Linked DNA regions of Homo sapiens. The protein of the gene in region 1 purifies or fractionates together with the protein of each later gene. This does not show direct contact. Each region holds a gene or a part of one and is shown on either strand. Other genes may lie near its edges. The genes, in order: REG4, ATE1, HTRA1 and KLHL26.

Region 1 (7,023 bases):
GTTATAATATTAATTTGGCAAGTTTATTGTGAAGGGCAGAGATAATGTGTTTGAAACACCTGTTGCCTAGCAGATTGTCAATAAGTCATAGCCATAATTAGAATTCCCCAATGCTTATGCACTGGTTTATCATTTTGAGCATTATTAGGGATTCCAGTTTGCAAGGTACCTACAATCTAGTTAGAGAGATGGCGCTTATACATTTATAGATCACACATCAAGTGCAAAGTAACATGGCAACAAAGTGGGTAGCAATATTGTAGAATCCACCAATAGAGAAAGCAGGGGAGGAACAGTGTACGAGTGAGCTAAGAAGAAATGTCACAGAATACCAGAAATGGAAGGAAATGAAATGTGATCTCATCTGGTGTAATGTCTTTGTTCTATTTACAAGGAAAATGAATTCCAGAAAAGGGTAGAGATTTGCCCAATGTCACACAGTAAGATTAAGTGATGCTTGGGCTTCTAGTGCCTTTCACAGTCCCATGTGGCTTTGCTGGGTGTTGGACATGTAAGAGTGAGTGAAGAATCCATACTTGAGCATTGCCTCTGTTGAGAAGAGGGCTTCCAGAGGGGACCAGTGCTATCTGTTACTTAGTACTGCTACTGCTGGGGAATGCCCTTGGCCAAGGGTAGGACGGTTTGGAAGGACATACTAAGAGAAGCAAGGTTCTTTGGGCATCATTTTGGCCCCTATGGCTGCAGTCTGCGGTCCTGGTCATAGTTATCCCTAATATGTCTTTCATGGCTCTTTGTCTTCAACCCTACACCAGTTCACTGAACTATCGCAGGCTGCTCAGGACCTGTGGAACTCAGCCATGCAAAGGAAACCATGCAAGAGAGTGCAAGGCTCTGGGGGGCTGCTCTTGAGCCCCTCCTGCAGAGCTGCCTTCTGTGGCCATTTCTATGTGGCCAGGTGGTTCCCTGCCACTCTTGTTCTGTGCTGACTTCAGACCTACTTAGTGAAACTTGAAATTTGCCCAAGCTATATCCTGGGGAATGTGATACAACCATCTTCCTATCCCTGGGATCTCACTAAACTCTCTGGCTTCTCTCCTGAGGAGGAGATGCAGACACAAGATTCACTACAGGTCCTTCAATTTCTCTCTTCCAGATAGATCTTCCTTCCAGCTGCAGAAGGACATTCTACTTATTCTTACTATCTTGGGGGAACCTCCCTTATGACATATCCTAAATGTTCTTTGCACTGCTGTACTTAAGAGAAATAGAGGGGACTTAGAAATTAATTTTCTCTCTCAATGAGACCTTGTAGTGAATATTAAACTCTTATTGCTTCCACAGTGAGTTCTTTGTCCTGATACCTGCCCTTCACCTGAAGCAATTCATGGCATTGATTCAGTGAGTGGAGAGACATAGAGCAACATCATTTATGGACACTAAAAAACTTCATCTGGCTTATCTTTTCAAAACTATTACATAATAATGATGATGGGTTTTAATAGCTTCAGGTTTTAACTAGCTACTATTTGTCGAACAATTCCTATACACTAGGCTCTGTGCTAATCACTGTACGTGAATTATCTTAATTAATCTTCCCAACAACTGTGTGAAGAAGGCATATATTGTTGATCCCACTGTACAGACAAGAAAAGTAAAGCTGAAAGAGATTAAATCATGTTCCTAAGGTCATACATGTAATAAGTGAGGGAGTAGAACGAGTATTGGAGTAGTCCAGGCAAGATGCTAGAAGCTGAAACCTCTTGATACTGCATGTGTAGAGATGACGAGCTCTAGCACCATGTGAGGTGGGGTCAAGGTTCTAAGGCCACCATGGAAACATTGGCTTCTCTCCCAGTTTCCACCACACTCCCCATCTGGGTAACCTCAGCAGGTTACTCGCCCCTGTGAGGAGGTTCTCTTCTCTGTACAATGGAAATGGTTATCCACACCTATCTCTCAGGGAGGCTCTGGTAATTAAACAAAATAATCTCAACGAATGTGCTTGACCCATGTAGGATTTAAAGCAATAACTTGAGCATCATTACTAAGATGACTAAGACTTGGAGTCAGACTGTCTGTCTGGGGTCAAATCTTACCTTTATCATTTATTTGCTGTAGGATCCTGGGACACGATGTCTTCTTTCTGCCTTTGTTTCTTCATCTGGAACGTAGGAATAATGACAGGGTTATTATGAAGATGATTAGAATATATGTAAACGGCCTGGACCTGCATCGGGTACATAGTAAATGCTCAATAAATGTGTGGAGTAAAGCCGGGTGCGGTGGCTCAGGCCTGTAATCCCAGAACTTTGAGACACCAAGGCGGGTAGATCACTTGAGCCCAGAAGTTCCAGATCAGCCTGGGCAATGTGGCGAAACTCTGTCTGTCTCTACTAAAAAAAAAGTACAAAAAACTAGCCTGGTACAGTGGTGCTCGCCTGTAGTCCCAGCTACTCAGGAGGCTGAGGTGGGAGGATCACCTGAGCCCGGGAAGTCGAGGCTGCAGTGAGCCGAGATGGCGCCGCTGCCCTCCAGCCTGGGCGATGGGAGTGGGGTAGTGCAAGGCAGAGCCATAGCGCAGCAGAGCGGCCGTTGGTTGCATATCTAGGAGCTAAAATGTCTCCACCAAGGAGCTCACGGCCACAGCCGCAACTTGCAGAGTGTGGGGCAGAGGGGAGGGGAGAGAGATGAAGTGAGGAAGGAGGAGGGGGAGAAAAAGAATGAGAGTCAGGGAACAGACAGTCATAGGCAAGGAGGAACACACATAGGCACAGAGAGAAAAGAGAGAGTACAAAGACAGGGAGAGAACGGAGAGATACATAGAAAGTCAAAGACAGAGATGCACAAACAGAGAGATGGTAAGACAGAGAGCAGCACTCAGAGAAACACAAAGAGAGACAGAGAAAGGGGAGAAAGAGAAGAGAGAGAGTCATGATTGTCTGGGCTCCGGCGTGGTCTTCCAAGTCCTCTGCGTGTGTCCCTCGGCCCTCTGCTTTCATGGCTTGGATCCAGGGGAAACAAAGACCGTGGTGGTAGAGGGTCTGTCCTAACATGTTTGCTCACGGAAGGCCAAGGACAGTTGCTTCAGAGTGCACAAGACCAAACCAGGAGCACCAGGTGTGATGCCAGGGGTCTTTGTCCTCGGGCCAAAGGTCAGAAATTTGGGTTCCTCTTTGCCACCTCTTTCAGAACAGTCTCACTGGTATTACATTGGAAGGCATGTTTTCGCAGCTGTCCCTTTCTGAAATTTAAGCCCATGTCATTATCTGCCCTCTGGTAATCAATGGCCAGCCTTCTCTTAAGAAGATCAATTTTTACGTAAAGTGCAAGGATTTCTTTTCCTCCTGAGAAAATAATCAAGGCAGCCCAATTAATTATTTCTGTTGCTAAGTTTTGAATTTCTCGTTTTTATAAAGGTTGGGAGGGTTGGTGGCAGTAACATAGATTTTTAAATCATAGAGAACTGGATCTGCAAAGCAGCTTTTCCATCTTACTGTGTGACCGTGGGCAGATGACCATCCTGAGCCTGTTTCCTCACCTCCTCAAGCAATTATGATAAAAATGCCATATGGATAAAACACCTAACATGGTGCCTGGCATCAAGAAAGCACCTTGCAGGGTGAGGGGCAGAAAGGGGAGGGGAGAGAGATAGAAAAGTGAGGAAGGAGGAGGGGGAGAAAAAAGAATGAGAGCAGAAAACAGTCACAGACAAGGAGGGACACACAGAAACACAGAGACAAAAGAGACCGAGATGTAGACAGAGTGCAAAGACAGGTAGAGAACAGAGAGATGATAGAAAGTCAAGCACCTTATTTACAAAAGCTAGTGACAGTGGTACTAGTAGTAACGGCAATGGCATAAAGGCTGTGTTTTATTTATCATAAAATTATGTTCATGTTTATGAATGTAGTAGAAGATGAAGCATTTAAATACATGAATATCTTTGCTGTTTGTTTGTAGTATATTTGACATACTCACTGAAACATTTCCTGCCTTGCCGTAGTTAGGTTGGTCATTATTCATTATTCATAGGTACAAGGAATAGCACATACAAAGGATCTAAAGCTACACTGAGCATTCGTGTTCCAAGACGGAGCTGGGACTATGGCATAGAAGGATGTGGCTGGATAGGGGCATACAACCAGGTTATAAAATCTCTTACATGCTAGACGAGCAGAGAGCTCATCTGAAAGCAATGGGGAGCCCTGGGAGATGCATAGGCAGGGGCTGAAATAAAACAGAAGAGTGGGGCAAACAAGCGACAGTAGTATCATTTGAATGAGGAGAGAGAAAATGCTGTTATGACAGCTGCAGTCTGTGGACCTCCCTTATGGAAGGAAACACTTTTCACCCACCATGGTGTCAGAAGGTAGCCACATAGTCACAAAGCCTACACTTGCTAGCTTGACATCCCCTTGATCACCTGATGCCTCTGTACATCCAGCCATCTCCCCCTCTTTATAAACCTTCAGATTCAGTGACATGGCACATTCACCAATGGACTAGCAGGAAAAGCATGTGCCTCCCTGAATCATGGATTCCTTTGCTTCTAGGCCCTGGCTCTTTCCTATTTCTGCCATGGTTGCCTGACAGACACCCTGTACTTAAGGCAGACTTAAGTGCTTGCTGTTTCTATCCTTCCCCACACATTCCTGCCTCCTTTGCCTAAAATGTTCCCTCCCCCAGTACTGACACATAGCCCACCTATGCTCAAGTTCCAGTCAAGTTGCCATGTAACCCTTCCCTTGTCTCCCAAGCCAAAGTGACTCCTCCCTCCTTGGAATGCTCCAAACTACCAATTTGTGTCCCTCATCCACTCTTGTGATGCCTTAAATTATAGTTATTTGACCTTCACTGCTAATACAAGATTCTGCCAGCTGCTGAGAATCTATTCCAATTATGAGTGTCTATCTAGTCCAATTATGTATGTATGTATATTCCAATTATGCATTCCAGAACTGGGGAGATAACCACAGCATGGGTTCAGGGGACCCACTGGACTCACTGGACCCACTGTGAGGCAGATCAAGCTAAAACTCCATTGATCACCTGACTTCCATAACCCCTACTCTGACTGGTGGACCGCAGTGACGTTTTCTTGGAATTAATGTCTGTTCAGAGGCAGTGTCCAGTAATCGCAGAAACACAGTCACACTGGTAAAAGGCCATAGGTCCCTTTGGGAAAAGCCAGAAGAAGGGTAAGCTGTATACATTTTTGGCAGTGTAGCAGGACCCTTCATGAAGGGACTCTCTTCATTCAAGGGGTTCCTGATTGCAAACTGTATCAAGTCTGGGAATTGATTGTTTTTGCTATCATAATGTGCAATTGCCTTTTGTTTATGTGCAGATATCATCATGAGACCCAGCTGTGCTCCTGGATGGTTTTACCACAAGTCCAATTGCTATGGTTACTTCAGGAAGCTGAGGAACTGGTCTGATGCCGAGGTAAGAAACTTGCTGCCTGCTTGGCCTGGCCTTTCTAGAGCAAAGGACCAGCCAGAGCCCCAGATCTCATTTGATTCAGGATCAAGTGTCCTTCCTGGGCACTATGAAGAGAAGCCCCTTTGGCTGGTGAAATGGAGAGAAGAGGGTTGTGTGTTCAACTCATTCAATTCTGTAAGCATTGCTGAAGCAGGTGCTGTATGCCAGACCCTAGATGGGCTACAAGCACATACGGATACATAGGAAAGAGCCCCTACCCTCAGCAAGCTCACTGTCAGTAAAGGAGACAGAAATACATCAATCAAAGGAGGAAGAGAAGATGAGGAATTCACAGAAAGGATAATGGAGTTTCTGTACAAGATTTACCAGAAAGAGAGTGGTGTGTAGACATGCCTGGAGCAGACACCTTGGAGCCGCTGACAGAAGGTGAAGCAGTCCAAGAAAATGTGGAAACTTTTCCGCTGCTCTACACAGTCCACAAACCTGTCCATTTTATTTCGTTGAAGCTTTGTCTGAGAGATAACCAAATAGACAGTCAAAGTAAGTTATCTCAGCCACATATGGGGAGTGGATGCTGCTGAATTGTGATTAATTGGGGGAGCCATATAGGTACATTTGGCATGATCTGGGCCTATGCGGTCTTACAATCCCTGTATAAAACTAGACAATGAAAAACAGAAAACAAAACAAACAAACAAAAAAACAAGAACGAAGCACCTACCACATGCCAGCTACTGAGGCTATGAAGGTATTCTCCCGCCTTAGAAAGCCCAGGATTAATGCAGGATTGCGACATTTAAACAGAACATTTCCATACAGCATGAGTATAAATGACTTTCCCAAGTTTACACTGAGAGTAACTGACACAGCAACCCCAGCAAAGTCTGAGCTGAGTCCTGAATAATTGTATAAAAAGGGGAGAGAAACAGAGTGAAGAAAGGGTTTCCCAGACTCTGTCCCAGGAAAGAAAATGAGCTCGTGGAGAGGAATAGACTTTCTCTATGAAAACAGAGGGAACAAAGAGGAAGATGTCTGGGAACCGAGGAGTAATAGAGACCTGAGTTTACATCACTACTCTGCCACTCCCTAGGTACCTCCCTTTACCTGTTTCCCTACTGGAAAGTGGGATAATACTTTTTACCTCATGGACTTGTCAGGAGGATTCATTAAAACGACTCGCATAAAGCCTATGCCACATGGTAGATGCCAATTCAGGGTCTCAAGAAAGAACAGCCCACAGGATTGACACTGAACCTTAACAAAGTTAACAGGACCAAGGTGCAGAGAGGGTGCTAGGACAGCGAAGCCAAAGAGGACCCCTCAAACCCAACAAGAGCTGTGCGGCTCCCTGATTCCTCGCCAGTGTTGCTACCGCCCTTGGCTCTTCTTGCATGGCTGGCTCTTGAGACCCCTGGAAGCTGATGGAGGCAACGTGAGAAGCACATGGACATCCGACCTTGAGCTTGAGAGGCAGAGGCCTGAGTTCTAGTTACAGCCCCAGCAGTACCAGTTGTGTGGACTGGGAGGGAGGCTATCACGTACATACTTCAAGCCTCCAAACCTGTTTCCCCTTCTGACACAGGATCTTCTGTGGCTGGTATAGAGTGGGCACTCAATAAA
Region 2 (7,023 bases), on another chromosome or scaffold:
GAGTAAATATGGAAAATGACTCCATAAAAAGATGATGTGGCTGGGCCCAGTGGCTCAACGCCTGTAATCCCAGCACTTTGGGAGGCCAAGGCAGGCGGATCATGAGGTCAGGAGTTCCAGACCAACCTGGCCAATATGGTGAAACCCCGTCTCTACTAAAAATACAAAAATTAGCAGGGCATGGTGGCATGCGCCTGTAGTCCCAGCTACTCAGGAGGCTGAGGCAGAAGAATCACTTGAACCTGGGAGGCGGAGGTTTCAGTGAGCAGAGATCGCGCCACTGCACTCCAGCCTGGGAGACTAAACAAGATTCTGTCTCAAAAAAAAAAAAAAAAGATGATGTATAATGAATTACAAAGAGACGCAATTCAGGAAACATTTGATGCCACGTAAAATGCAAAAATCACATAACTACTTTATTTTGCAATGTTAATGAATCCCCTTTTATAAAGGCAATATGCTTAGAATAGTGCTTTCCATGTAACAGGCACCAAATACAATTTAGATTCTTTTTTCTTTAACCAATCGAAATCACCCTTTTCTGATCACAGATTAAGCCAATCAACTTCAAACTTATGAATAGAATCCTGTCCATAATCCAATAAATTGCTAATTGAAGACAAATGACTTCTGCCTTAGAAGATACCTTCTCTTTATAACCACGAAAACTGAAAGAGGACAGCACAGGATACTCTGTCATTCTATTCTTTGTGTAATGACACAGTGTCAGCAAACCAGACCCCATTTTTCTCATCCTCTGCCAATCCAACGGCCAGCTGGACTTCTGGGTCGGGGCGGGGGTGGGGGGGACGTGAAGAACTTTTCTTACAAGAGGATTGTAAAATGCACCAATCAGCTCTCTGTAGCTAGGATTGTAAAACGCCCCAATCGGCGCTCTGTAGCTAGCTAGAGGATTGTAAAACGCACCAATCAGTGCTCTGTGGCTAGAGGTTTGTAAAATGGACCAATCAGCACTCTATAAAATGGACCAATCAGCACTCTATAAAATGGACCAATCAGCACTCTGTAAAATGGACCAATCAGCAGGACATGGGCAGGGACAAATAAGGGAATAAAAGCTGGCCACCCTACCCAGCAGTGGCAACCCACTAGGGTCCCCTTCCACACTGTGGAAGGTTTGTTCTTTCACACTTCACAATAAATCTTGCTGCTGCTCATTCTTTGGGTCTGCGTCACATTTAAGAGCTGTAACACTCACTGCGAAGGTCTGCGGCTTCATTCTTGAAGTGAGCGAGACCAAGAACCCACCAGAAGGAACCAACTCCAGATACACCAGCACTTTGGGGGGCTGAAGCGGGCAGATCACCTGAGGTCAGGAGTTCGAGACCAGCTTGGCCAACATGGTGAAACCCATCTCTACTAAAAATATCAAAAAAATTAGCCAGGTGTGGTGGTGCACGCCTGTAATCCCAGCTAGTCGGGAGGCTGAGGCAGGAGAATCGCTTGAACACGGGAGGCAGAGGTTGCAGTGAGCCGAGATAGCACCACTGCACTCCAGCCTGGGCGACAGCAAGACTCCATCTCAAAAAAAAAGCTCCTAATCAAGTATCAGTGAACCTTTGGGAGTCTGCGATCATTCTAAAATTAACACGCAAAATGTGCTGGGCATGGTGGCTCACGCCTGAAATCCCAGCACTTTGAGGTGGGTAGATCACGAGTTCGAGAGTAGCGCGGCCAACATGGTGAAACCCCGTCTCTACTAAAAACACAAAAATTAACCAGGCCTAGCGGTGGGCATCTGTAGTCCCGGATACTCAGGTGGCTAAGGCAAGAGCACTGCTAGAACCCAGGAGGCGGACACTGCAGTGAGCTGAGATCACACCACTGCACTCCAGCCTGGGTGACACAGCAAGACTCAGTCTCGGTGGGGAGGATATGCAAAATGTTACATATTTTTGTCTACATCCCTTTGGGCAGGAGGCCAGCTCTCATCGACTTCTCAAAATGGTTTGCAACCCAAAAACAAGTTAAGAGCAACCAAGGGAGACAGCTTTGAGGACCAAACAAAAAAACTAATGGACAAAAAACTGTTTAATTTTTTAATTTTTCATTTCTTAAAGTAAAACTGTCTTTTAATTTTATGAGTATATATACACATTGAAATTGGGGGCAAATACATGCTTCAAAATGTTAACGCACTTTTCACATTTTCTATCAAAAAAAAAGGTTCAGGTGCAGTAGTAGCTCACACCTATAATCCCAGCACTTTGGGAGGCTGAGGCAGGAGGCTCCTTTGAGCCTAGAAGTTGGAGATCAGCCTAGGAAACATGGCGAGATCAGCCTAGGAAACATGGTGAGATCTGCCTAGGAAACATGGCAAGACCCCTTTTCTATAAAAAAAAATGTAATTTGCCAGGCCTGGTGGTGTGTACCTACAGTCCCAGCTACTTGGGAGGCTGAGGTGGGAGGATTACTTGAGCCTGGCAGGCAGGCTGCAGTGAGCCATGGTTGTGCTACTGCATTCCAGCCTGAGCAAGACCCTGTCTCAAAAAAAAAAAGAAAAAAGAAGAAAAAGATGATGATGACCTTATAACCAGAATAAGAGAGAAGATTTTTCTATGTTAGGGTGAGGTGAGAAGGTACATGGAAAATCCAAAAGATTATGAAAAAATCCAACGAAGACTTTGTAGGAAAATAGACTTTGGTTTAAGTTTCCCATTTAAGAAAACTGGACTCTGGGCCAGGTGCAGTGGCTCACGCCTGTAATATCAGCACTTTGGGAGGCTGAGGCAGGTGGATCATGAGGTCAGGAGTTCAAGACCAGCCTGGCCAACATAGTGAAACCCCATCTCTACTAAAAATACAAAAAATTAGCCGGGCGTGGTGGCAGGCACCTGTAATCCCAGCTACTCGGGAGGCTGAGGCAGGAGAATCACTTGAACCCAGGAGGCAGAGGTTGCAGTGAGCCGAGATCGCGCCATTGCACTCCAGCCCAGGCGACAGTGCGAGACTCCGTCTCTTTAAAAAAAAAAAAAAAAAACTGGACTCTAAGTGTAAGTGGCAGATTAAATTTAAGCCCTCTTCCTTCCAATTAATTTTTTTTTCAACTTTTATTTTAGATTCAGGGGGTATAGGTACAGGCTGGTGACCTGGATATATTGCATGATGCTGAGGTTTGCAATATGGATGATCCCACCACCCAGGTACTGATCGTCATACCAAGTTGGTTTTTCAACCCTTAGCTCACGCCCTCCCTCCTCCTCTAGTAGTCTCCAGCTTCTACTTTTGCCATCTTTATGTCTGAGTACCCAAGGTTTAGCTCCCACTTATAAGTGAGTGAGGTGGGAAATTAAAGAAAAATAAAATTAAAAAGAAAGATAAATAAGCTTTCCTGTATTAGGCCGACTTGTCCCAGAGGCAGCAACAGGCACGGCCCAGACCCAGGAAAAGCCTTGATAATATTATCTAGTGTGCTCTGGAGATTCTCCCAGCACTCAACATGCAGAGAAGAAAAAATAAATTTTCCTTTGTTTTACGGAATGAGTTCATAGATTCCTGTTCTCTGTAACTAGTGACTTCAAGTATTGTTTTATCTGAGAAGTACAATGAATGTCATGAGAAGCCTGAGTAGGCCTGAACTGCAGCTGCCTGGGCACCATAGTGAAGATTATGGGATAAGCCCAGGCAAACCTAGATAACGGACATCTGGGTTGCTTGGCAACGGTCATGTGCAATCCTGAGTTTGTCCTGCCTCTGTATCCCTGCTTTCACGCCACTGTAAGCTTGCTTCAAGCTAGCCCACCCCCTTCTGTGAACTGTGTATAAAAGTCTTTGTTCCGGGCCCAGTCTTTTAGACGTTGAGTCAGCTGGGCCTAAGTGCACTCAATAAAGTTTCTCCTGTTTTAACCCGAGGTCTCTCTTGTCCTCCTGAATCCCACAACATGAGAACGTGAACCTACCAAGTAATTTATAGGAGCCTGTAGCATTGCTTGAACACAAGCACTGTGTCAAGCAATACACCAGAATGCAGAAAATTCTAAGCTAAGTCCTATAATATTTAATATCCAAAAGTAATGTGAATATTTACCAACATTTTCCCAATATTTCATGGCATTCATTGACAAGATTGCTAAATTAAGAGGGTATTTTTTTCACATATTTATATCTGAACCAATCAAACAATATTACTAAAACCTACTGATCAGCACATAAATACAGCATCAGTATGAAGAAAAGACATAACTCATTTACTTTTCCTTTTAAAGGACATCTACCTAGAGCGGAAATAAACATTAAAAAAGCACAAGAGACTACTAAAATATTATACACAATCTTCATACTATAAATCCTCTTTCTACTAATTAAAATTCTTACCTTATTGTGTACTGAGGACAACATGTTTGATTCATGACAGGTTTGTACACATATTTTCCACTTCTAAAATTATAAAAATAGTTTGTTAATGTCTTATATATTTTTCACTTGCACCAAAACAGCCTAGCACAGGAGCATTAAATTAAGGTTAAAAATCTAATCAACATTGTAGAAATGCATGTAGGTTTAATTACTCTTCATAAGCCAAATAATCTTCAAAGTGCGTGTAGCAAAGTTTAGAACCCTGCCTTTTATTTCCTAAAGCTTTACTTGTGTACCCCACGGCCAATCATCTCAGTTCCCCTCTCACCAGCATCTGCCACCCCTGCTCTGCCTTCACCTGCCACCAATCCCCAATACCACAAGGGCAATGAGAGAAATGCCCACGATGCTGTGGGACTCATGTATGTGATGCCTGTGACAACCACACTTGGGTATTCCACATGCACCAGCACGGAGTACCCCAAAACTAACCCGCTTCTTTCCATGCATTCCAGGTCTATGGTACTAACAGAACTGTTCATTCTGTTCTCAAGTCAGAGACCTGGGAGTCATTTTAAACTCCTCCCTGGAATTCACCTCTATATCCTATTAGCAAGCTTTCCTTCATTTTAAACCCTATCCTAAATTGTCCCCTCTTCTCTATCACCATTGCCACTAAGGTGACAGTCCTCATCATCGCACATCTGGATAGCGCAATAACCTTTGAACTCATCTTCCTGCCTCTATGACCCCCCCTCAAATACCTCTCAGCCATCTGAACAATCTTTTCTAAAACAAATTCCTTCACATTTCTCTCTTACCATAAAATCCTTCCATGACTGCCTTCTAAAAAGTTCTGGCCAGGCATGGTGGTTCATACCTATAATCCCAACACTTTGAAAAGCTAAGCTGGAAGAACACTTGCAACCAGATGTTCGAGACCAGCACGGGCAACATAGCCAAGATCTTACAAAAAACTGAAAAATTAGCCAGGTGTTGTGATGCACACCTGTAGTCCTAGCCACTGCAGAGGCTGAGGCAAGAGGATCACTTGAGTGTGGGAATTTGGGGTTACAGTGAGCTATGATGATGGCACTGTACTCTAGCCTGGGCAAGAGAGCGACTCTAGCCTGGGCAACAGAGCGAGACCATGTCTCTAAAAAAAAAAGTTCCTTATCATGGCATGTGAAGTCCTTTAAAATCTGACCTATGTCTACCTTTTGAATCTCATTAAGTTTAAGGAAAGTTGTGATATTTCAGCTGGTGCTCCCAATCCCACGTCTTTGGCAAGTATTAGCGTACAGTATTTAATATTACTTATATTTACACAAGGAACTTTACCTAAGAGTTACTTAAAAATCATCCACATAAAAATAACTACTCAAAACAGGCCATGTGTGGACTTTAAGGAAATCCTTATCCAAATAAACTGTTAAAGAAGACATTTTTGAGACAATCTGGAAAATCTAATAAAAAGTAGGTAACAGGTAACATCAAAGAATTTTTATTAATTTTGTAAGGTGTGATACAGCATTGTGGATAAGTTAAAAAGAAAAAAAGACCTCTCTCTTAGAGATACATACTTATTGCCTATCTATTGATAGGATAAATGTCATAATAACCTACTGATGTAATTTGCTGTTAAATATTAAAAGGTGGAGCAGGAGAATCAAACATGATTGGCAGAACGTTAATAACTGCTGAAGCTTAGTGATAGGTACTTGAGGTTCATTCTAATGTACTCTCTGCTTTTATAGATATTTGACATTTTCCTAACAAAGTTTTTTAAAAAGGAGACAAAAAATCACTACATAAAAGAATATAATAAAAATTTTTCTTAAACCTCTTTCCAACAGGAAAGCATTTCAAAGGCATGCTGTATTTTTCAAGAACCTGAGTAACAGTAGGAAGTCTCTTTGTATCTGGAAGCTTTACCTTCGCCATCCTCGGTCTATGAGATCCTGATAATCCTGTACTGTCATGGAATGTGCCCACATGCCTGAAAAAATAAGTAGTGTGTTAATTACGGCAGGGTAACCTTTTTTCTTTTTTAAATTCAAAGTGTGAGGTTTAAAAATAGGAGTGTGTGTCCGGGCACGGTGGCTCATGCCTGTAATCCCAGCACTCTGGGAGGCCAAGGCGGGCAAATCACAAGGTCAGGAGTTCAAGACCAGCCTGGCCAACATGGTGAAACCCCATCTCTACTAAAAATACAAAAATTTAGCTGGGCATAGTGGCGGGCGCCTGTAATCCCAGCTACTCAAGAGGCTGCAGCAGGAGAATCACATGAACTCGGGAGGCGGAGGTTGCAGTGAGCCAAGATCACGCCACTGCACTCCAGCCCTGGCGACAGAGTGAGACTCCATCTCAAAAAAAAAAAAAAAAATAGGAGTGTTTAGGTTAAAATTCCAAAACACTCATATTGGATAAATGAAAAGTTTGTACATACTTCACAGCTGTTAGTTGGGCATACACACAGCACAAATAAAGAATGACACTATATATATTTTCATTCAAAAAAACACATCGAAGTTAATTATATTTATTTGAGGATTAGTCAATAGTCTCTATGACAGCATAAATTTAAGTCCTCACTGCAATCAGACTGCATCAGACCTTCAAACTTTAATAAATATCCCCAATGATTTAACATGCTGGTCTCTTCAGAAAACTTAGCAAAATGTTTTGTGCTTATTAGTTCTCCTG
Region 3 (7,023 bases), on another chromosome or scaffold:
CACCTGAGGTCAGGAGTTTGAGACCAGCCTGGCCAACATGGCAAAACCCGGTCTCTACTAAAAATACAAAAAGTAGCCAGGCATGGTGGTGCACGCCTGTAGTCCCAGCCACTCAGGAGGCTGAGGCAGGAGAATCACTTGAGTCCTGGAGGTGGAGGTTGCAGTGAGCGGAGATGGCGCCACTGCACTCCAGCCTGGGCAACAGTAAAACTCTGTCTCAAAACATAAAAATAAAATGAAATAAACATGTTTATGAAGGACAACGGGGGCCCCTCCAAGTGAAATCAGGATGCCAGGGGAGGAGCTGGGCCCAGATGATAAGCCACCGAGTTAGTCACTGGGCCCACGGACGCGGCAGGCAGTCTCACCAGCTTCACTGGGTTACTCTTAAATGGCTTTGCAGGAGGCTGGGCCACAGTCTCATATGACAAGGAGCCGTGTAGGTGATTTTCATTCCTCAAGCACAGTTTCTGCTGGTTCTGTTCTGCCTTCTCGGTTTTCCTGATCTCTTTCATCCTCTTTGTTATCCCTAAGATGACACAAAGCAAGGCCAGCCAGAGCTTCCCCCGAAATAACCCATCATCAAAACAAGGGAACAAAAGAGAAAAAGCTGGAAGAGATGCTGTTACTCTCCCTACTTTCAACTACTATCAGCAAAAAAAAGCAGTTTAGTCAGTGGAAACCAGTCTTTTGTGTGGGTGTCTGCAATTTAATATCCTTTCATTTCCAATTCCATTTTGAAAAGCCACATCAGTTCAATTTTAAATTTCAAGCACCCTTTCTTGGGGGGCTTGAAACACATGTCAAACAGCATGCTGCTGGCTGAAGAGCTAAACTCCCAAGACAGCAGGAGTCAGGTCAGACACACTCTGCAAAGCTCGTCTATTGAGATCGTTCACGTCTTGCCAGGACATGCCAGGGATGGCACGAGGAGACAGTCTCCACCTTGGCTCAAAATTGGAAAAGAATATCCCCCGGCCAGAAGCAGCCGCACGGTATGTGCCCACGCATTCCAAACACGAAGTTACGCAGTGGGGGCGGCGTCCAGGCCAGCGCCTCGCCTGCACACAGCCCATGCCCTGCTGCTGGCTGCCTCCCAAAGCTCCATGAGGCTGAACAGGTCCCACGCGTGGCCACAGGCTGTGCTATTCTGACTGGCTCCTTCCGGTGAGACTACCACATCCTGGATACCTTTCTAGCAGCCTGTTCCTAAACCAGATGCACCCGCCTTCCCATGGGCTGTTTAAGGTCAAGCTGTCCCATCAAACCACGGGGCCGGCCTCTATCCCTCCAGCAGTAGCCATGGGCTGCCTTAGGAGGGCAGGGTCATGAGGTGTTTGCTGTGTGGCCTCACACAGGTTACTAGACTTCTCTGAGCCCCTGTTTCTTCTTCTCTAAAATGGGGATAACACAGCTATTATGCAGATTAGGTGAAAAAGAATGAAGGCAGAGGCTGGCCCAATAATCCTGTGACCAATAAACACACTTTGAAAGATTAGTTGTCGCTAGAAATTCCACAGTGACCTAATAGAAATAACACACAACTGCAGCCTCACTCAAGGCCAGTTACACACACCGGGCACAGAGCCTATATCTACCCAGAGCCTCTTCGGCCATGCCTGGCCACCCAGCCATAGAGAAGCTACAGGAACATCGGGGAAGGAGGGTAGTAAATGTGTTAGCTGGTGGTTTTCTGAAGACTGGCCGTAAAGGAGCCTGAGCTGGGCAGCAACTTGATGTTATAAAAAGACGGAGAAGGAGACCCGGAATCCTACCACCCAAACAGCACACGCAGAGTTGTTTCCAGAAGGAGGTGTAACCAGCGTGCCACTGAACAGCACAAACAGCCAGATTAATTCCACGCTTGTCTGGAATTACTCAGCCCACACCCAGGTAAAGCGAGGCAAGCAGAGGGCTGGACAAGAGACCCCACCTGGCTCAGCCTCTGGTCTTTTCCTTGGTCAGAGGCAGGATTCCAGCCTCCTCTGATTGTTCCCTCCATCTGAAGTCTAGAAAATTATAAGGATGTGAAGAAACTGGAAACCACGCTTTCACTGAACATGCCACACAGCAAACAAAACCTCTCTCATCGACGTGTCGAGTGGGGGTTTTTGATGAGTCAGTAAGAAATGGATATTGTCCCAGACATGAAGACTTTGCTAAGCAAATCAACAGAGCAAAAATGATTGCAAAGAGAATATTTAAATAGAAAGCATTTTCAAATACAGCATTTCCCAAACTGATTTTGGTATGTCTCAGTTCTGCCTGCCCCCACAAAAAGCTGTATACTCAAATGATTATAATTTGGGCAAATAGTTCAGTCAACACCCTTTTGTAGGCAAGCCACGTGCACACTAGCATACTAAAAGCTCTGAGAAGGTCTGGAAAGAAGAAATCCATTAGCTCTGTTTTAATTCAAGTTTTCCAAGATGTTTAAAGTACGAAACATTCTTTTGAAACACATCTCATAACCCCGCAAAACCCCAATTTGGGAGAGCTGGTTTGTTTTCAAAGTAACTGTTGACAAGTTAAGGATGGCTCAGTCTAAAACCCAGTAAATTCTATGTTCATTGTGAACGCATGATGTATCTGTGGAGGATAAATAAAATCTGTAACAAGAGTTGCCACAGGATTGGGAATGGGAAGGAGAATCAATTTTCACTACTTACCTACTAATTTCTTTACAAATCTATTGCTTTCTTTGACAAACATTTAAAACATTATTTTAAAAACTTTTATCTGGCTCCTTACAGAAGTTTTCCTGAGCCCCTTCCTCTCCCACACCCCCAGGCCATACTCAGCATCTCCTCAAGGCCCTCCTGTGACTGGCTCAGACTGGCTTCAGTGCCCCCCGAGAATCAGCTGCAATCAGAGAGCTCTGGTGCCTTTGCCAAGGGTGTTCCGGGGCATCTGAGAACTCACCTCTGCAGGCGAGAACACCCTTACCTGGTGGTCAATTTTGATGAGTGCGATGTCTGCTTTCTCATCCACATCCTTGATTTTGGCTTCGTAAGTGGCACCGTTCTTCAGCTCAACTTTGACCCGGTGCTTGTTGGTCACCACGTGGGCATTTGTCACGATCAGTCCATCTTCCGACACAATAAACCCAGACCCACTAGCCACCGGCACCTCTCGTTTAGAAAACGGAAGCCTAAAATCCAAAGGAGTACACACTTAAGCCTGTAGCACCTTAAAATGAACGCTTCAACGCATTGATTAATGGGTTGTGCAACAGCCACACACACCTAGCCATCGCTCCTTTATATATCGGGCTTAGCATTTAAACACTAAACATCCTGCCAATTTTTTGCATGCATCAAAAACTTCCACTTACAAAATATTCTTAGAGAATCTCTTCAGAGCCCGAGGTTCTTTAAACATTCAGAAGGGTCAAGAATGTAGATTTATATAGTCGAATAGGGAAAATGTTCTAAGGGAGACACACTTATCTTAAGTAGGAAGATATTCAGTGACACTTTGACACTTTAATGTATCTCAAAAATAGCTCTCATGTTTTGCTAGTGGCGGTGAAAGCTTCGGAGGTTATAGGAAAAAGGAAGGCTCTCTTTACTTGCGAAACAATTCGATATGAACCACGGCAGGGGCGATCTTCTCCACCACGTCCGCGATAAAGTTATATTTATGGCGCAAACTGTTGGGATCTTCCTGCCCTGAGAACAAAAGCAAAGAATAGATACTTAATGACACTCTGCTGTGGCCACCTAGAGAAAGACATGGGTTAGAGGAAGCCAAGATGCATGCCCAGCCTTTGGAATTCTGAAGGCGGAGTGAGCGCAATTCCCCCACCTGGGCTCAGCTGCAAATGTCCATCCACCTCCCAAGGGAGTGCCCACCCAGGTAAGGCAGTAAAATCCACTAATGATAACCTCTTTGCTCAGGTTCACCACAAAAACGTTGAGCAGAGGCACCAGCAAATGCTTCAACCTCACACCAGCCTTTCCAAGAAGCTGATGGCCCAAGTTTGTTTTTTGTTTTTTTTCAGTTTATTTTTAGATGGAGTCGCACTCTGTCACCCAGGCTGGAGTGCAATGGCGCAATCTTGGCTCATCACAACCTCCACCTCTCCGGTTCAAGCGATTCTTCTGCCTCAGCCTACTGAGTAACTGGGATTACAGGCACCCACCACCTTTGTATTTTTGTATTTTTACTAGGGACCGGGTTTCACCACGTTGGCCAGGCTGGTCTCGAACTCCTGACCTCAGGTGATCCACCTGCCTCGGCCTCCCAAAGTGCTAGGATTACAGGCGTAAGCCACCACACCCAGCCAAGGGTCCCTTTTTGATGTGGCATCACCCTCTGCCTGCGTCCCTTCCCTGAGTCCCCACCATTACAAAGAAGCAACAACCCTCCTGAGAAACACCGCAGGAGCAAAGAGCACCGGGGCTTTTTCTAGGAGAGGCCCACCAGACGGGTACATCTGAGATTATTACGAAGAAACACGAAGGCAAAGGGGCAGCTCCTATCTTTCCCACTGACACCCCAAGGCAAGCTGAGGCCATCGTCTGTCCCCAAAGCAGTTTCCGCCATGCCTTAACCACACGTTCCAACCCTGCCCGGGACATCCCAGACAAAAGGCATAAGAGGTGCCTTAAGACTGTGGGTGAGAAAAAGAGAAAAATCAAACAACTGTAATGCTTTATACCTACAGTCATGCACCACATAACGTTTCAGCCAGCCGCGGACCATAACACCATTGTTTTTACTATACCTTTTCTATGTTTGAATACACAAATACTCACCATTGTTACAACTGCCTACAGTATTCAGTACAGTAACCTACTGTACGGGCGTGCATCCTAGAAACAACAGGCTCTGCCATCTGGCCTAGGTGTGGAGTGGGCTCTGCCATCTAGGTTTGCGTAGGCACACTCTGTAACATTCCCACAGTGATGAAATCGCCTAACGACGCATTTCTCAGAACGTATCCCTGTTGCTCAGTGATGCATGACCGTTTATATTACAGTGAGTGGCCCCACGTGGTGGGCGTTTCCAAAGCTACTTTCAACAAAGCTGTCACATGTCCCGATGTGAGGCTCTCACCCAGCAGGGCTACAAGTTAGTTTCCATCAACCAGAGGCACATACCCAAGGTAACTGATTCAGAAACGGACTGCTAGAGATTCAGGGTCCTGGGCTCCCATTTTCGTGGCACGGGTGGTGGCAGAGGCAGTGTGTCCCTGGAAGTGCAGCCTTAGCCTACTACTCCGGCTCCTAATCTTGCCACCTGCTGCTACCTCTTAACAAGTCTCTGCTAAAGCAGGCTGGAGAGGTTCCAGGCTGGTCTGCAGCTGAGAGCCATGCACCCCATTCTTCCCCCTTGGACTAGCTCAGCGTTGCACAAGCAGGCTCCAGGGACCCGCACTCCTCTGCTAGCTGCTCACTACGAATTGACAGGAAGCTTTCGGAAACTTTCATAGCAATTTCACATGGTAATCTTATGTCTGTTGCACTGAAAAATGAGTAACTGGGGCTTGTATTTCCTGTCTCACATTTTGTATTTTGTAGGTATTTTGTGTCTCATTTACCAACAGGCCTGTGTGCCTGCCCCTAACACACATGCATATATACACAGAGATGCAAATGCACACACACACACAAACTCACACATACACACTATGCATACACACCCACAGATGTACATGCATAAACACACCCACACATACACCCACATTTACACACAAACTGTCACATAAACACCTATACACACTTCCACACACATTCATATACTCACAGATGTGCACATACATACAGTCACACATATATACATGCAAATGCACACATACATACAGACGCATACACACACACACACACACGCCTCTCTCATCACTAGAGTGGCAACCCTTCCCCAGGCTCTAGGCTATAAGTAAAAGCTGTGAGACGTCCCAGCCCTCTTGTGACCCGTCACAGCTTCACACCCACTGGTTCCCACATCCCTGCTGCACTGGGTCACGAAGGGCCATAGTAACCCAGCTTGACACCATGGGGCACAGGGACATCGGGAGGACCACCTGCCTCTCCCACGCTTGCTTTCTTGGAAGTGAGAGCGCTTCTGTGAACAAAGGGCCGTTTTCTGTCCTAGCCCCTGACCTCTGAGTTGCTTTATTTAAAGATTGGAATCATCTCCTTTTACATAGCATGGTTTTTTTCTAAGGTACAGAAAAAGATCTGCAACTACTTGGAAGAATAATTTAACAAATTCAGAACAGTATCATATTATTATTTTTGCTTTCAAAACCCTTTCATTGGCTGCCTTAATTTAATTTTTTCTACCTTCATGTGGAATAGGAAAATCAGGTATCCTTCCCATATTATATATGGGGAAACTGAGGCTCGCAGACTTTAAATAACTTCTCCATGGACACTGAAGTTTCTTAATAGAGAGTATAAGTAACAGATCTGGGCAAGCCCTCCCAAGCCCACAGTGTCACCAGATCTACAGCTTCTCACTTCAACACTGGCCTCCTACAGATCTGCTACCCTCCTAGGTTTCCAGGTAGTTGCAAATAATTGGTGTGTCCCCCCGAGCACTCCAATGGGAGGTGTAAATAAGGGAATGGAAATGTTCCTTCTGAAAACAGAGCCTGGCGAATGTCACCAGACAGCTGTAAACAAACGCATCTGGGCTTCCTCAGACCAGCTTCCTGGGGAAAGGCCAAGAAGAGGTTTAACTCCAGCCAGGCCAGAACACAGAGACAGCGTGGTGTTTCAGAAACTCTCACAAGAAGGACCATTACCAGCGCCTTCCCACTAAGGATCATTAACTCACTTCCTCTTTCTGGCTTCCTGAATTAGGTATGGGAGAATTTGCCCACACCAGGGGCAAAAATGAAGATGGATTGAAGGTGGATTTTGCTGGGTAAAATGAGAGGCAGTTCCCTTCTCACACAGTCACATAAAGTGGTTCCAGGGTCTTCCCACCAGGAAAGCAACAAGGGAGATCAAGGAGGATCTGGCCTGGCCACTGGAAGGCCCAGTTCCAGCCTCAGTCCACTGAGCAGCCTCC
Region 4 (7,881 bases), on another chromosome or scaffold:
TTGTTTATTTTCACTCCACAGTGAAAAAGAACAAATTTCTGATACAACAACACAGATGAACTTCAAAAACATTATGTTAAGGAAAGAAACCAGACGTAAAGGCCACATGTCTGATTCCATTCTTACGAAATTTCTAGAAAAGGCAAAGCTACAGAGAGTGAAAGCAGATCAGGATGTCCCCGGGGCTGTATGTTGGTGGAGCAGGGTTAATTGCAGACGAGCTTGGGGGAACTCTTTGGGGTGATGGAAGCATTCCAAAAAACTGGATTGTGGTGAAGGATGCACAACTCAGTAAATGTACTGAAACTTAATGACCTGGGTTGAGCACAGTGGTTCACACCTGTAATCCCAGCACTTTGGGAGGCTGAAGCGGGCAGATCACTTGAGGTCAGCAGTTCAAGATCACCCTGGCCAACATGGCAAAACCCCGTCTCTACTAAAAATACAAAAATTAGCTGGGCATGGTAGCATGCACCTGTGGTCTCAGCTACTCGGGAGGCTGAGGCAGGAGAATTGCTTGAACCCAGGAGGCAAAGGTTGCAGTGAGCCGAGATCACACTACTGCACTCCAGCCTGGGCAACAGAGTAACTCTATCTCAAAAAAAAAAAAAAAAAAAAAAAAAACTTAATGATAAATTAAAATGAGTGAATTGGCTGGGTGCAGTAGTTCACGCCTGTAATCCCAGCACTTTGGGAGGCCGAGGCGGGTGGATCACCTGAGCTCAGGAATGCCAGACCTGCCTGGCCAACAGTGAAACCCTGTCTCTACTTAAAAAATACAAAAATTAGCCAGGCATGGTGGCGGGCACCTGTAGTCCCAGCTACTCAGGAGGCTGAGGCAGGAAAATCCCTTGAACCTGGAAGGCAGAGGTTGCAGTGAGCCGAGATTGCGCCACTGCACTCCAGCCTGGGTGACAGAGCAAGATTCTGTCTCAAAAAATAAATAAATAAATAAAAACAAAATGAGTGAATTGTATGCCATGCAATTAATTATATCTTGATAAAGCTGTTTATAAAAAAAGAGCCATGCCCAGCATGGTGGCTCACATCTGTAATCTCAGCACTTAGTGAGGGGTGAGGCAAGAAGATTGCTTGAGCCCAAGAGTTTGAGACCAGCCTGGCAACAGAGCAAGACCTGGTCTTTACAAAAAATTTAAAAATTAGCCAAGTGTGGTGGTGCACACCTGTAGTCCCAGCTACTCAGGAGGCTGAGGTGGGAGGATCACTTGAGTCCAGGAGTTTGAGGCTGCGGTGAGCCTTGGTGGCGTCACTGCACTCCAGCCTAGATACCTGGGTGACAGAGCGAGACGGGGTTTCAAAAAAATAAAAATAAAAAAAGCCCTAGCCCCAGGTTATCCCACTCCAGTGCCCAAGGCAGGGACCTGGGGTTCACTGTCCCTCTTCCCTGTCCCTTACTTGCCAACTGATACCCAATTTTCAAGCCCTGGCCACTCCCTGAATATCTCTGAAAATCCTCTGACATCTCCTGGCTCCCTACTGCAGGACAATCTTGCCCCACACCTACCCCAGGAGGCTGGTCACCCCTCTGGACACACACCTCCTGGGTTCCCCATGGCCCCTCTGGCAGACCAGATTCAATGCCCACAGACCTAAGTCTCAAGGTGCCACTCAGCATCCTCAGGAACAGGCAGGGCCTTTGCCTCCTCTGTGCCCTGGCCCAGCCATCCCTCCTCCCTTCCCCACCCATCCCATGCGTGTTCCATTCAGTACCAAATCACACAGCCAGGCCATCAGGCCATTCCCTCCAACAATCAGCCCACAGGTCCAAAACTCCACAGCACGTAAGTATCAAACAACTTCATCATTTATCATGTTGCCTGAAATTACTGGCTCCTGGAAGCTCACCAGCAAGAAAAAGCCTGAATTTCCTCCTTGGCCTGACCTGGGTGCTGGGCTAGAGGAGGAGCTGGGGTGGGAGGGTCTGGCTTTGCCCAATAGGAAAAGAGCAGGAGATCACACTCCTAAGGCAGGTGTTCTTTCCCTCTGACAATCCAATACAATGCATGCACACACATATCATTAGTTATTGATGATAACTAATTGTCATGCAAACCTGGACGTTCAAGCAATCCATGTCAGGACTGGGCCATGGGGAAAGGGGGCCTCCCTCTGACCAAAGGGGTGAATTCTGTCCCCTTGTCTGAGGGCAAGACCTTTCTGTAAGTCCTTTAGCCTGTTGGGGATGTGGATTTGGACCCCATGGGGATGGAAGGGAGGAGCCCCAAAGAAGAACCCTCTGTATGTTCTTTATAAACCCCCTGGAGTTCTCTCACCCCCCTCAGGTTCCCTAGACCCACCCCAGGCCCCCTCAGCCTCCCCATCTCAGACTCCCAGATTCACCTAAGTCCCCCACCCAGAGCCTCCCACAGTCTCTACTCCTTCCAGCGCCCCTCAGCACGCTCTCAGGACCACCTTTAGCCACCTTGGGGCCCTTCAGCACCTCCCAGGATGCCTTGGGCCTTAGCCCCTTCCTCAGAGCCCCCAAGACACCTCACCACCCTCAGACTGGCCATGGCATGGCCCCTGCTCAGGCCCTCTCTGCTGCCCAGGCCCTTTGGCATCCCCAGTTGCCCCACGGCCCACCACAGTCAAGAGCCCCTCGGTTTCCCTTCAGACCCCCAGGATTCTCAGGTCCCTAGGGCCGCCTGCAGACGCCTCGAGGTCCTGGGGCACCCAGCCCCCCTCCAGCCACCCCCTCAGTAGCCCTCGGCTCCTCCAGTACCCCACGGCCCCGTAAAGTCCAAATTCTCAGCGAAAGACCCTCGAGCCGTGCCAGGCCTCCCCTCAACCCCTCAGGACGCCCAAGACTGCCCACAGGTTTCCTGGGCTCCAAGACAGGTGCAGGTCTATCCTGCGGGCCGGGTCTCACCTGTTCGGGCGCTCGGGGCCCGGGCCCGCGCCGAAAGCGCCGCCGCCACCAGCACCACCGCTGCTACCGCCGGACTCCGCCATCTTCCCCCCGCCGTCGCGCGTTCGAGTGACGGGAGCCGCGCGCGCAGGCCCGGGAAACCGAGACGCGGGGGGCGGGGCGGGGCCAGGTCTGCGGAGGGGCGGGGCCGGGACCAGAAACCAAGGATTGGGGCGGGCCCGGAATCGGAGGGGCGTGGTCTACGGAGGGCCGGGGCGGGTCTGGGATAAAGGGAGGGGCCTGCTATGCAGAGAGGTGGGTCCAGGGCGGGGCCTGGGCTAGGGGTGCCGGATTGGGGCGGGACCCTGGCGTGAGGGGCGGAACCAAGTCTGAAAGGGAAGCGGTTCTGGGCTGAGAGGGCGTATTGTCTGTGGATAGGTGGGGACGGGGCGAAGCAGGACAAGTAGGCGCAGGATGGGGTTGGTCCCTGGGCTGAGGAGTGGGGCGGGGTCTGAAGAAGGGGCAGGCCCAGGGCAAGAGGAGGAGGGACAAGGGTCCGGCCTGCGGAGGAGGCGGGGCGCAGGATAAAGGGCGGGGCCAGGTGTGAGAAGGGACAAGGTGGAGGTTAGGAATGCGGTGGGGGAGTGGTCGGGGAGGTAGAAAGGAGAAGATGGGTCTGAGGTTGGGCGGGTCTGGGCAGGAGAGAGGAGGAATCTGGGGATGGATGTGGTCAAGCGAAGAGAGGGCCTGGTCTGAGGAAGGGCGGGGCCTGGGCGAGGGGTGGAGTCTGGTTGGAAGGAGGGCGGGGAAGATCAGGGGTGTGTGCGTGGAGGGGGCGAGGGATTGGCGGGGCCGGGGGGGCGGAGCCTCATCTGATGGGGGTGGGGCCGGGCTAAGTGAGCGGCGGATCTGAGGAGGGGCGGGGCACGTGCAGGTGTTAAGGAGTGTCTGTGAGTGCCCTGGGGCGCTGGCAGGCGTGCCCCGGGCGTTGGCTGGGCGTGGTTATACTTTGAGGCGTTGGAGCCACAGGGAAGTGAGTTATAGGTAGGGTGGGAGGGAGGGTGAGATGGAGCATGGAGAAATGGGTCTCTAAGCTCTGAGAACCACACCCTCCCTCTCCCCACCCTGCACACCCCGACTCCAGTCTTACCTCCTTCCCAGGCCTCTCTCAGGGGCGAAACTCACCCATGCCCAGGCCTCAGACTTCCAGCCCCTCATGGTTCCCCACCCTCCCCTGACATACCCTCTTCAGAGCCTCCACCCTGAGACCCCAATCATCTGGCCTTAGGTTCCCACCACCTGCTTCATACACCAATTCTGGTTTCTCATACTCTAAAACCCTGCACATCCAATTATCTCCCATTCTCTACTCAAAACTCATCTCCCACTCCCCCAAATCCCTGCCCACAGATCCTTCAAACCTTACACTCCCAAAGTCCATTCCACCGGACCCAACACCCTCAGATCCCCAAGCACCAGCCCTCCCAACACACTGACCCTCAGCCAGGGCTCAAAGTCCTGCATCTATAGGCGTCTATGAAGCATCTAGACCTTTTGGGGGCACCCCTCACCCCCCATCTCTGGTAAGCTCCAGGCTCCCAGGATCCCCTCTGTAGCTTGGAGCTCATTTATTCTTTTAACCTCCAAGTCAGAAAACTCTGACTTGTGCAGTCTTGGGCAGAAAGCAGTGATCCAGAAGGAGCTCAAAGCCTTCTTTCCCGTCAGTGCTGGAAGAAGGAGGTGGCTATGGGGCTGGAGACCCCATAGGAGGAAGGAAGGGGCCTGCTTGAGTGGACTCCTGCAGGTTGGACCGCACTCAACCAGCATCTCCAACAGAGGGCCTGATACAACAATACGTGCTCAATCGTTACACAAAATGCTCTCAGATGACCCTGTGCAAGCTGACAGATACCAAGTGCTGAAGGGAACTGCTGGCATCTCCAATACACAGTAAGCACTCTGCAAATGTTGAATGCACGCGTGCATGAACAGCTCACGTTCCGGCAAGCTCTGCACACACACACACACACCCTTGCCTGCCCTAAGTCAGCACCGCCCCAGGAGTCTTTGTTCCAGACGAACCACATGCAGGCATCAAACCTCACTCAGCAGCGACCTACAGCTGACACACCCGCCACAAATAACATTTGAAATCAATGGTGTCCATATGCACGCACACTTCATAAACATCCAGATTTGACCCATATGTCAGACACACAAGACACACAGCTGAAGATAAGAAAGAAGAGGTTCTCTGGGCTCCTGGCTGTGCACACACACATAGTGTGCTGTAGACTCACTGCACTTTGGACACACTGTGTGATCTGTCCTCCACGATCACATAGCACAGGGCAGCCAGTGCAATGTCCCTGGGGCAGGAGCGTGCCTAGAGAGTGGCCTGGCAGAGAAAAATTAGGAAGAGGGAGAGGAGAGGGGAGGAGAATGGGTGGGAGGCAACAGGAGGTGCTTCAGGTCACAGAGGGCTTTGGGGATCATTTTTGGGGTCCTCTGCATGAAATGAGAAGGGAGAGGGGGCTTGTAAGCAGTGGCAATGTAATTGACACTGGGTTTTTGTTTTGTTTTGTTTTGTTTTGTTTTTGAGACGGAGTCTTGCTCTGTGGCCCACCCTGGAGTGCAGTGGTGCGATCTCAGCTCACTGCAACCTCCGCCTCCTGGGTTCAAGCCATTCTCCTGCCTCAGCCTCCTGAGTAGCTGGGACTACAGGCATGTACCACATGCCTGGCTAATTTTTTTTTTTTTTTTGAGATGGAGTCTCACTCTGTCACCCAGGCTGGAGTGCCGTGGCACAATCTCAGCTCACTGCAATCTTCGCCTCCCAGGTTCAAGTGATTCTCCTGCCTCAGCCTCCCGAGTAGCTGGGACTACAGGCATGTGCCACCACGCCCAGCCAATTTTTGTATTTTTAGTTGAGATGGTTTCACCATGTTGGACAGGCTGGTCTCAAACTCCTGACCTCAAGTGATCCACCTGCCTTGGCCTCCCAAAGTGCTGGGATTACAGGAGTGAACCACTGTGCCCAGCATAATTTTTGTATTTTTATTAGAGACGGGGTTTCACCATGTTGGCCAGGCTGGTCTCGAACTCCTGACCTCAAGTGATCTGCCCGCCTCAGCCTCCCAAAGTGCCAGGATTATAGCGTGAACCACTGCACCCAGCTGACATTGGTTTTAACAGTGTCAATTTAACAGTGTTACAGTGTCTGACTGTTCAACAGTGTCTGACAACTGGGGGACAATATCTTGAATTTGGGACATGAGTCAGGAGGCATATAATCCAGGGAAAAATGGGTAGGGCTCATCCCAGGGTGACAGACATGGAGGGGTGGGAGGTAGTCCTAGTTGAGATGCACTTTGCAGGTGGGACCAAAAAGAGATGGAACAGATGGGATGTCGAGTGAGGCAGAGTGAGGCCAGTGACCTCTGCCAGAGCTGTTGGCCTGAGCTCTAGAGGCCACTATCACTGGCATGGAGCAGAGACAAGTGGAGGACCTGGAGGGCCCACGCCGGTGACTGCACACGCCTCATCCAGTAATGATGACCTGTGGTCTAGCAGAGCCGGCAGGCAGGGACATAGCAGGCAGCATCCACGGGCCTGGCCACCATCTGGCCCACAGCTGGCACGGCTCTCCTAGAGGCAGGGCCCGCGCCACCTGCTCTCCCACTTCAGACCAGCTGCAGGGCTCACACCCTCAGGTCAGAGCTTGGAGGCCTCCCTTACAATCCCCAGGTGTTATGGAGGAGGAAAGTGAAGCCTTGGGGGAGGGCTTCAAGTTCCTGTGGTTTTAGGCTGGGGACAGTGTCTGCCCCATCAGGCAGTCACCACGGAGTGGTCCTGGGGCAAGCCCAAGGTCCCCCGACATCAACTCCCTGTCCTCAGTCCTGTTTGATTTTTCTCCTATCTAACAAACTCTGTGTTTTACCTTTTTTTTTTTTTTTTGAGACAGAGTCTCGCTCTGTCACCAGGCTGGAGTGTAATGGCACAATCTTGGCTCACCGCAACCTCCGCCTCCGAGGTTCAAGCAATTCTCCTGCCTCAGCCTCCCAAGTAGCCGGGATTACAGGCATGCACTACCACGCCTGGCTAATTTTTGTATTTTTAGTAGAGACAGGGTTTCACCATGTTGGCCAGGCTGGTCTTGGATTCCTGACTCAGACGATTCACCCACCTCAGCCTCCCAAAGTGTTGGGATTACAGGCGTGAGCCACTGCGCCTGGCCCTAAATTTTTTTTTAATGGAGGCGGCACATCCTTTCAGGATCATGAGTGAGGCTTGCTGACAAACACCATGATCTCTCTCTGTTACCCCAGCCAGCAGCCTCCCGCACCTCCTTGAAGTCATGTCTGCACTGGCCCCACCTTCTTTTTTTATGTTTTATTTATTTATTTAAATTTTTGTTGTTGTTTTTGTTTTGTTTTGTTTTTTTGAGACAGAGTCTCACTCTGTCGCCCAGGCTGGAGTGCAGTGGCGCGATCTCATATCACTGCAACCTCCACCTCCCGGGTTCAAGCGATTCTCCTGCCTCACCCTCCCAAGTCTCTGGAATTACAGTTGCCCACCACCAGGCCTGGCTGATTTTTGTATTTTTAGCAGAGACAGCATTTCATCATGTTGGCCAGGCTGGTCTCAAACTCCCAACCTCAGGTGATCCGCCCACTTCGGCCTCCCAAAGTACTGGGATTACAGGCACGAGCCACCTCGACTGGCTACCTTCTTTTTTTATGTTTTATTTATCCATTTTCTTAAAAGACAGGGTCTTGGCCAGGTGCGGTGGCTTACGCCTGTAATCCCAGCACTTTGGGAGGCCAAGGCGGGCGGATCACCTGAGGTCGGGAGTTTGAGACCAGCCTGACCAACATGGAGAAACCTCATCTCTAATAAAAATACAAAATTGGCCGGGCGTGGTGGCTCACGCCTGTAATCCCAGCACTTTGAGAGGCCGAGGCGGGCAGATCACGAGGTCAGGAGATCGAGACCATCGTGGCTAACATGGT

What was found.
Region 2: the proteins of REG4 (region 1) and ATE1 purify together in Homo sapiens (affinity purification with mass spectrometry; 2 studies listed by BioGRID and IntAct, with this or other methods). This does not show direct contact.
Region 3: the proteins of REG4 (region 1) and HTRA1 purify together in Homo sapiens (affinity purification with mass spectrometry; 2 studies listed by BioGRID and IntAct, with this or other methods). This does not show direct contact.
Region 4: the proteins of REG4 (region 1) and KLHL26 purify together in Homo sapiens (affinity purification with mass spectrometry; 2 studies listed by BioGRID and IntAct, with this or other methods). This does not show direct contact.

Annotation. Positions count from the first base shown.
Region 1 is NC_000001.11:119,801,451-119,808,473, reverse strand, and holds part of REG4 (regenerating islet-derived protein 4 isoform 1 precursor), read left to right. Parts: intron 1-5,308; coding exon 5,309-5,406; coding exon of another isoform or gene 5,407-5,646; exon of another isoform or gene 5,647-7,023. UniProt on the Homo sapiens protein: Calcium-independent lectin displaying mannose-binding specificity and able to maintain carbohydrate recognition activity in an acidic environment. May be involved in inflammatory and metaplastic responses of the gastrointestinal epithelium.
Region 2 is NC_000010.11:121,918,014-121,925,036, forward strand, and holds part of ATE1 (arginyl-tRNA--protein transferase 1), read right to left. Parts: intron 6,317-7,023; coding exon 6,253-6,316; intron 4,399-6,252; coding exon 4,336-4,398; intron 1-4,335. UniProt on the Homo sapiens protein: Involved in the post-translational conjugation of arginine to the N-terminal aspartate or glutamate of a protein. This arginylation is required for degradation of the protein via the ubiquitin pathway. Does not arginylate cysteine residues.
Region 3 is NC_000010.11:122,485,550-122,492,572, reverse strand, and holds part of HTRA1 (serine protease HTRA1 precursor), read right to left. Parts: intron 3,672-7,023; coding exon 3,572-3,671; intron 3,152-3,571; coding exon 2,947-3,151; intron 1-2,946. UniProt on the Homo sapiens protein: Serine protease with a variety of targets, including extracellular matrix proteins such as fibronectin. HTRA1-generated fibronectin fragments further induce synovial cells to up-regulate MMP1 and MMP3 production.
Region 4 is NC_000019.10:18,632,147-18,640,027, reverse strand, and holds the start of KLHL26 (kelch-like protein 26), read right to left. Parts: upstream 3,001-7,881; 5' UTR 2,974-3,000; coding exon 2,891-2,973; intron 1-2,890. UniProt on the Homo sapiens protein: May play a role in endo(sarco)plasmic reticulum (ER/SR) mitochondrial signaling. May be part of the ubiquitin-proteasome system (UPS) and affect ubiquitination and degradation of target substrates in cardiomyocytes.